Linked DNA regions of Homo sapiens: region 1 is linked to region 2. Evidence: fine-mapped expression QTL. A gene starts in region 2. The other region holds a variant in brackets. All regions are shown on one strand. Distances are between the middles of the regions.

Evidence for each region.
Region 1: its variant is fine-mapped to the expression of XRCC3 in whole blood (TOPMed, PIP above 0.99).

Annotation. Positions count from the first base shown.
Region 1 is chr14:103,625,796-103,630,169 of GRCh38, forward strand. It overlaps KLC1 (kinesin light chain 1), which reads left to right and starts at 3,416. Exons shown (of 17, transcript NM_001394837.1): 1 at 3,416-3,699. LOC105370688 (a long non-coding RNA gene) reads right to left here and starts at 3,348. Exons shown (of 3, transcript XR_944248.2): 1 at 3,237-3,348; 2 at 1,944-2,130; 3 at 1,707-1,745. RefSeq lists silencers at 371-420, 2,984-3,183, 3,274-3,633, 3,684-3,803, 3,894-3,943 and 1 more and an enhancer at 2,454-2,543. The variant T/C (reference allele first, on the strand shown) is at 1,953.
Region 2 is chr14:103,713,628-103,718,001 of GRCh38, forward strand. XRCC3 (X-ray repair cross complementing 3) reads right to left here and starts at 1,824. Exons shown (of 10, transcript NM_005432.4): 1 at 1,797-1,824. ZFYVE21 (zinc finger FYVE-type containing 21) reads left to right here and starts at 2,183. Exons shown (of 7, transcript NM_024071.4): 1 at 2,183-2,352. The coding sequence starts at 2,215. RefSeq lists an enhancer at 625-1,310 and silencers at 1,507-1,766, 1,847-2,416, 2,607-2,686, 2,787-2,856, 2,917-2,996.

The DNA of each region.
Region 1 (4,374 bases), 88 kb before region 2:
GGTAGTTCCCCCCCTCCTTTTTTTTTTTTGAGACAGGGTCTCACTCTGTTGCTCAGGCTGGAGTGCAGTGACACAGTCATAGCTCACTACAGCCTTGACCTCCTGGGCTCAAGTGATCCTTCCACCTCAGTTCAGCCTTCTGAGTAGCTGAGACTATAAGGGTGCATCACCATGCCTGGATAATTAAAAAAAATTTTTTTTGTAGAGTCAGGGTCTTACTATGTTGCCCAGGTTGTCCATGCCTTTTAACCCCAGGCAGTACCTTAGGAGCCCAACCTAGGAGCTGCTAACGGCTCCAAGGACTGCAGGATCTCCTGAGGATCATGGCAGAAGTCAGGGACTTAAGGGACCCGAAGAGTCTGCTCCCCTTGAAAAGGGAGCAAGAGCAGCATCTCTGTGCAAAGGAAGCCTGGAGAAGCAGCAGCCCAGCCCTCCTCTCATGCTTGCTTGAGGGTTGCCCTTGCAGCTGCGTCAGGTGCTGAGCAGGCTGTGGGGAAGAGGACACCAGCCCCTCCTGTTCTCTGCTTACAGGCTGAGGAGAAGGCAGCTGTGTAAGCTGACCACATACTACACATTGGGGAAGGGACAGGTGGGTGGTCAGAGGAGGCCTTGACCCAGGCAGGTGCTGTCAGAAGCGGCTTCCCCCAGGAAGTGACGATCATTTGAATCCTGGAGCACTGGGGGGAATGGGGGAGGGAGAACATTCTAGGCACAGTGAATACTATGTACAGGGGCATGGCTATGTGAGAGACCAGGGTGAACTCAGGAACAGATAAGGGTGTTCAGAGCACAGGAGACCAGGAGGTTGGCAGCACCAGGCCCTGGGGGCCTTGTTGACCAACCCAAGGAATTTGAAGTTGCTGCAGACAGTGATGCGTGGCAGCACTGGTGGATGAATTGGCCTTTTCTCCTTTCCCCCAACACTCCAGGGTCATTCCTGCCTGAGGACTCCTGCCCTCAGAGCTCTCCTGGGGCTTTTATTTATTTTGTTTTGAGACAGAATGTGGCTCTGTTGCCCAGGCTTGAGTGCAGTGGTGTGATCTTGGCTCACTGCAACCTCTGCCTCCCAGGTTCAAGCGATTCTCCTGCCTCAGCCTCCCGAGTAGCTGGGACTACAGACGTGCGCCACCACGCCTGGCTAATTTGTTGTATTTTAGCAGAGATGTGGTTTCACTGTGTTGCCCAGGTTGGTCTTGAACTCCTGAAGGCAATCCACCTGCCTCGGCCTCCTGAAGTGTTGGGATTACAGGCGTGAGCCACCTCGCCGGCCTCTCCTGGGGCTTTGAACGCCTGCCTCCCTCCTCTCATTTGGGTCTCAGGTCACCCGCCTGCCTCTGAGTTCACCCCTGACCACCTAGACTCTGCCTGTTCCATCATCTTTGTTCCATCTCTGCCTGTTCCATCATCTCGGCAAGATCCGGTATTTCCTTATGTGTTTATGGCCTACTTCTCCTCACTGGAATGTAAACTCTTAGAAAGCAGAGATCTTATCTATCTTGTTCACCTATGCATCCTTGGCTGTTATGAGGATCATGGGAGAGCAACAAATATTTATTGAGGAAATAAAAGAACAAGGTAATAAAGCCAGAACAAAGTGGTGGCAGTGGAGATGGATTCAAGAAATACTGAGAGGCCGGGCATGGTGGCTCACACCTGTAATCTCAGCACTTTGGGAGGCCAGCTGGGAGGATCACTTGTGGCCAGGAGTTCGAGATCAGTCTGGGCAACATAGCAAGATCTCCTCTCTGCAAAAAATTTAAAAAACATTAGCTGGGAGTGGTGGTGCACACCTGTAGTCCCTAGCTACTTGGGAGGCTGAGGCAAGAGGATCTCTTGAGCCCAGGAGTTCGAGGTTACGGTGAGCTGATTGCCACTGCCCTCCAGTCAGGGTGACAAAGATACCCTAACTCAAAGAAATATTGAGGAAGTAGAATCTTTTCCACCTGTTGTAG[T/C]AGGGCGTAAGGGAGCGGTGCAGGCATCCCAGGTTTCTGGCTAGGGTTGTGGGTGAGCAGAGGGGACAGTTACTGGGCGCAGCGGCACAGAAAGAATGAGCAGTCGATGCTTGGCGGTGCCCAGCCCAGTGGCTGAACTTAGTGACATCCAAGCTGCAGTCTGGCTGAAATCACTAACCTGAAAGTGGTATGGAGAAAGTTTGTTTGACCCTGACTCAGTGCCTCTCCCCGGGCCAACCCTACCGTGTTACCTAGGAGCTCCCCCTTTGTCTTTATAAATGAGATAAAAGTAACCAGACCTCCCTGGAAAAACCGAGGAGCACTTGCTTCTCTGGTGACTGCGGGGCCTAACTGCAGGGTTCACAAAGGGCTGCTGGTGCTGGGTGATAACATCGGAAAGGAACAGCAGTTCACAAGATGGGGCTGGGGGACTGGCCCAGGAACCCCTCCAGGTTAAATGATGCCTCCGGGCCCCGCACTTGGGACGTCTGCAGGCACTGGGAGGGTTTTTCCCAAGCCGCTGGCAGCAGCGAGCGGAGCCTCGCCCATTGAATCAGCATGCCCTCCCGGCTGGCTGCTGAGTCAGGCCTGCGGAGCCGGCGAAGCCGCAGGACTTGACCCAGGCGCGCTCCGCTGCCCTTCAGGCCGGGCTGGAGGTCGAGGCCCTGCAGCCAGGGAGATGCGCCGGTGGCTGCGTGGGGACAGAGGGGGGTTGTCTCCCACCCTCACAGTCTACACCCCGGCCCTTCCCCTTTGCCCGTCTGAGGCGCAGTTTGTGTCGAGGGGGAGCGCCTGGAAAGTTTCCTCGTACAGATACGAGGGTCCAAAAGCCCCGAGGAGAGGGAATAATGAGAAGGGGAGGGCGCAGGGTTAGAGGTCAGGGTCTCGACCAAAGGCTGTCGGTTTTCCTGGAGGAGGGAGAAAGGCCTGGCCGGGATCATCTGATTCCGGGGCCTCCCGAAGGCCTCCTAGCTGGGTTTTGGGGGGACCGAAACGAGCGCATGAAGCTCGCGGGCCTGGGAGTGGGGTGGGGCGGGAGCCCAGTGGTGGCGGCTGCGGCCGGGCCTGCACCGTCCCCGGCCGCATTCTGGTAGGGCCCACAGTCCGGCTGGAAGGGAAGCTGCCGAAGCGCTCGGTCATCGCGGCTGCGGAGTCGGAGAGGCCAGGGCCTGGCCGCCCACCCCGCGAGCCGCGCCCTGCCCCGAGCGCCCCACCCCCGTCCGCGTTACAACCGGGAGGCCCGCTGGGTCCTGCACCGTCACCCTCCTCCCTGTGACCGCCCACCTGATACCCAAACAACTTTCTCGCCCCTCCAGTCCCCAGCTCGCCGAGCGCTTGCGGGGAGCCACCCAGCCTCAGTTTCCCCAGCCCCGGGCGGGGCGAGGGGCGATGACGTCATGCCGGCGCGCGGCATTGTGGGGCGGGGCGAGGCGGGGCGCCGGGGGGAGCAACACTGAGACGCCATTTTCGGCGGCGGGAGCGGCGCAGGCGGCCGAGCGGGACTGGCTGGGTCGGCTGGGCTGCTGGTGCGAGGAGCCGCGGGGCTGTGCTCGGCGGCCAAGGGGACAGCGCGTGGGTGGCCGAGGATGCTGCGGGGCGGTAGCTCCGGCGCCCCTAGCTGGTGACTGCTGCGCCGTGCCTCACACAGCCGAGGCGGGCTCGGCGCACAGTCGCTGCTCCGCGCGCGCGCCCGGCGGCGCTCCAGGTGCTGACAGCGCGAGAGAGCGCGGCCCTCAGGAGCAAGGCGGTGAGTCCCCGGCGTGCGCCCCGGACCGCGGCCCCCTCCTCATCCTCCGCCCCGTCCCTGTCCCGCTCCTCTTCGGACCCGCCCCGGCCGTAACTCTGTCCCCATCCAGGCCTCCTTCCCGGTTTGGGTCCCGGCCCCTCTCCGTTCCCACCCCGGTACCCGCCCCAGTTCACCGCCCCGGCCGGTCCGCGACCCCTTCCAGGTTCAGGTCGGGTTCTTGTCCCCGGCCCTTTTGCCAGCCCCGGCTCCCGGCGCCGCGCGTCCTCCCCATCCGCGTCCCACTGCAGGTTCCGGTCCCCGGCCCTGCCCAGGGCCCCGCCCTGGCCCCGCATCCCCGGCTTGGCCCTGCTGCGGGCGGCGGCGGCCGTTCCCGGGGACAGCTGTGGACCCCGGGAACCCGCGACAGGGGAGGTGGCTGACCCCGGGATCGCGGCGGGCGGGGAGGCCGGAGGCCCGGCGGGGCTGGCTTTGTCCGATTCCTCCTCTTCCTTCCACCCCCGCCTCTCCCGGCACCGCCCTGAGCGGACGCGCCTGTCATTCTCGCGGGCGGCGGGGGGCCGGGTCCCTCCCGAGAGCTGGCTCCGCTTTGCCTCCTTGGCGACCCCTTATTTTCAGTAACCAGATGCGAAACGTTTCAGGCGACCCTGTTCACCTAGGCTGGCGTTGCTCCAACTA
Region 2 (4,374 bases):
TGCCTGGAGCTGCTCTGAGCCTTCCGAGGTGGACTCACTCCTCTGCCTTGGGCCCTGGGACCTGCTGTGTAGCTTTGAAGTGATTCACAGCACTTACATAGTCTGATGTTTTGGGGTGACCTGACCCCCCTGCAAGAGTGTGATGTCTTATCAGACCACATATGTGAGGACTTGAGTGAACTCCGCAACCTTGGGAATGCCACTTAAACCTTGTCAGACACTCCCTTATGTGAGTTACTGACCCTGACTGCTGGACTGCAAAAACAGACATCAGCTTGAAGGTTGTGCAGATGCTTTGAGGCAAGCTATACGCTGCTGGCCTGGGAGCTGGACCTCGGTCCCAGCTTCTCAGAGAGCTCCCGCTCTCACGCTCTCCACTGCTACCAAGGCAAACCTCGAACTCTCACCAGATCTCACTCTCCAGGGGCCCGCTCCATCCCAGCAGAGCAACCGGACCCTGGCCGTTCTGCCACTCACCTCCCTGCCGTGAATGCACCCCATCCATGGAGGCCCTGCTTCCCTGCCAGGTGTCTTCACCTCCTCCCCTCTCCTCCCCTCTGAGCACTGTGAACCCGAGAACAAATCTTCTTTGACAATAAACCGTGTGATTCGTGGAATCATACTTTGATCATCTCCTTATTTCCTCCACACACAAGGACCCCTGCACTGCCAATGGCCCCAGGAGAGGGCAGAGTCAGCCACAGGGACCCCACCTCACAGGCTTCAACACTGCTGATGCCTGTCATCCCAGCACCGTGGGAGGCCAAGGCGGCCAAGGTCGCCTGAGCCCAGGAGTTCAAGACCAGCCTGGGCAACACAGCAAGACCTACTCTCTACCGAAAAAAAAAAAAAAAAAGAAAAATAGCTGGCCAGTGTAGTGGCGCTTGCGGTCCCAGCTACTTGAGAGCCTGGGAGGTCGAGGTTGTGCCTAGCTGTGAAGACGCCACTGCACTCCACCCCGGATGACAGAGCCAGACTGTCTCAAAAAAAACAATAAAAATTCACGCCTTGTAATAAGGAATTAAAGGCAGGATGAACAAACATTTTCTTCTTTTTTTTGTGTGCTTTCTGAGATGGAGTCTTTTTCTGTAGCCCAGGCTGGAGTGCAGTAATGTGATCTCGGCTCACTGCAACCTCCGCCTCCCGGGTCCTGGTTCAAACAATTCTCCTGCCTCAGCCTCCCAAGCAGCTGGGATTACAGGCACGTGCCACCACACCCAGCTAATTTTTGTATTTTTAGTAGAGACGGGGTTTCACCATGTTGGCCAGGCTGGTCTTGAACTCCTGACCTCGTGATCCGCCCGCCTCGGCCTCCCAAAGTGCTCGGATTACAGGCGTGAGCCACCGCGCCCGGCCTAAAGGATTTTCTTTCCAAATCAAAGTATTAAAATAACTGTTCAGACCTCTCCCACTTCGATGCGAAGCCAGCGCGGTCCCAGGCGGACGAGCGAAGGCATCGAAGGCCGGGGGCGCAGCCGCGGGCCCACCTCGGCCTCCCCTGAGCGGACGCCTCCCCGCGCGCACCGGGGGCCCCGGAGACCGCCTTCCCCGCTCCGAACGCACGCGGCCCGGCCCCGGCGAGGTGCCTGAACGCTACCCGAGCTGCGGCGGGGCTCCCGGGGTGAGTGCTGCAGCCCCAGGCCCGCCTGCTCCCACAGGCTCGGGCAATGGAGACCCGCGGCCGCCCCCGCCCCTTGACCCTGCCTCACCCCTCACGCCCGCTGCCGCCCACGACCTCCGACCCCGCTGCCGCCCGGCTCGCAGCCCGGCTCGCAGCCCGGCTCGGCGGGCCTCACCTCCCGCGGGTTCCGCACTCCTCTTCCCGCCGTCCTGCTCCTCTCGGCCTTCTCCTCCAATAGGCGCCTAGCACCCTGAGTGGGCTACACCAATCAGAGACGAAGCGGCGCTAACGTGACTGACTAACTAACCAATCCAAAGTCTCAATCTCCCTGAGAGGGGCGGAGCGTACCCGGGCCAGCCCTCGCCGCCGATTGGTGATCGACCTCAGGGTTGCAGGGGCGGTGCCCTTACACGGATTGGAGAGGGCAGCGATGGGGCGGAGTTCAAGCTCCGATTAGTCCGCGCTCCGTGGCGGGCTTGGCGATTGGACGCCGGCGCTGTCAGCCGCGCGCGGACCGGGGCGGGGCGGGCGGTGCCCCGGGCTGGGCGAGGGGCCGGGTGCGGGGCCGCTGGCCGAGAGGCTGAGGCGGCGTCATGTCCTCCGAGGTGTCCGCGCGCCGCGACGCCAAGAAGCTGGTGCGCTCCCCGAGCGGCCTGCGCATGGTGCCCGAACACCGCGCCTTCGGAAGCCCGTTCGGCCTGGAGGAGCCGCAGTGGGTCCCGGACAAGGAGGTGGGTGGCCGTCGCCCCGGCCAGCGCCTCCGACCCGCCCCGCCGCCCCGGCCCGGCCCCGCGGGCTTCCAGGCTCCCGCGACGACCCCTCCGCCTCCGGGCGGCCCCTTCCCCAGCCGGCCCCCGCCCCCGCTCTCTCCCAGGTTGGCCGCGTCCCCGGGCCGCCGCCTCAGGCTCCTACGCCCGCGGGGAGGGCGGGAGGCGCGCGGTGTCCCGGTGCGGGGGTCCCGGGAGGGCAGGAGGCACCTGTCCAGGGCGGGCGCCGGGAGGCGGGGTGCGGGGCGCGGGCTGGTCCCGGGGGTGGGTGCGGCCCTGCCCGAGGCCGGTTCGTGCTGGGCTAGCGCGTGTGGACTGCGTCCCGAGAGCTGGGGCTCGCTCCCGAGAAAGTGGAAGGCGGAGCGCCTTCCTCGCAGGCTCGGTGGGGAGGGCGCGTGCTGTCCGCGGAAGCGCTGGAGCTGGCGGCCCCGCAGGGGTCCCTCCCGGGAACCGGGGGAGGCGTCGGTGCCGCGGGCGGGTGGCCGGTTCCGAAGCCACCTCCTGCTCGGAAGGAGGGCCAGGACCCAGTCTGCGGGCCAGGCTGCCCCCCGTTTCCCTTCGTCTATACCACCCTCCACCTCGGAAGCGAGGTCGCAGTCGCCCACTGGACAGTTTGAAGGAGACCGCAGATTTGCACCCGTTTCCCATGGGCCCAGACACGGCAGGAGTTGCCCAGGCCACTCCTGCAGACATTGGGGCGTGGGCGTGGGGTCCCTGAGCCAGGCCATCCGCTGGGCCTCCCGTGGGGTTCCCTGTGACCTGATCGGAGGTGCCTTTGCCTCACACCAGCCCCTTGGCCAACTGGGAAGGCCCCGAGTGCATTTAATCCCACTGGCTGTGCGCTAACAGGTGTGTCCAGTTTCTGTTCTGTGGATTTTACCACGATAAAAAAAAAATTGGGGGAGAAAAAGAATTTTTGTAATATGACTTTCATACTTAACACGTGTTACAGATTCGTTTAATTCCCTCAGTGATAGAACTAAGCAGACGTTGGAACTAGGTTCAAGAAGTCAAAGTAGCACTAATTGACTGGGTTCATTGAAGCTTGGTTGGAGGCCTGGTGGGGGGTGAGCGGCCACAGAGCCTCGGGGACAGGACGGAATTCGAGTGACTCTGGGGAAGTGTCTCTGGCATCTACAGTGTACGGAGCCATCACCGGTCACTGAGCGTGTCCTGGAGAGTTGAGACCAGTGCTGCCCACCTCTCCCCAGTATCGCCACCATGAGGAGTCTTTTTAGACACTTTCCGCCAATCATCCTCCTTCATCTTTTTTAAAATTTACTTTTAAGTTGACACGTGAAAATTGTATTTATGGTGTAACGAACTCTTAATAGCACAGAAATACTCTACGTCTGTATGAACCGTAAGGAGCACGTGAGAAAGTGTGGCCAAGATGAGGCAGAGGTTTCCACCAAAGCACAATTTCTTTCTCCCTGCTGTACACATGCACTGATCTTACGGTTCTGTTTTATAGTGAACCACTGTGTTCCCCTCCTTCATTCTCTCTTCCAGAGCCCTTCTGGTATCAGCTGAATTGTTTAGCATTTTTCCCTGCCTTTCTTTGTGGCCTCTGCTGAGGCACTGTGTGGCAGTCCCGCGGTGACTTCCGACTGAGTGGAGTTGAAACACTTGAGTCAAGGTGGCACCCCTCGTGGAAGAGAAGATTCATTCCCACGCTGGCGTGGTGGCAGGATACCCCTCCAGAGCCCCCCACCATGTTTGGATGATTAACTGGGATCTGAGCAGCTGAGGGAGGTCCTAGCATTGGGTGGGCTTGGGGGACAGAGAAACCATTCTAATAAGATGGACTTTGTCTCTGAGTTTTGCGTTGTGAATTGTATTGGAGCATGGTCTTACAGGCCAGAAACGACCAAAGACAGTGTTCTGGAGGAACTTAGAACGGGGCAGTAAGGGCTGGAAGATTTGGAATAAAGTCCAGCTTTAGGTGCAATAGCTCGAGGGGACATGTACGGTAACAGTCGCCTG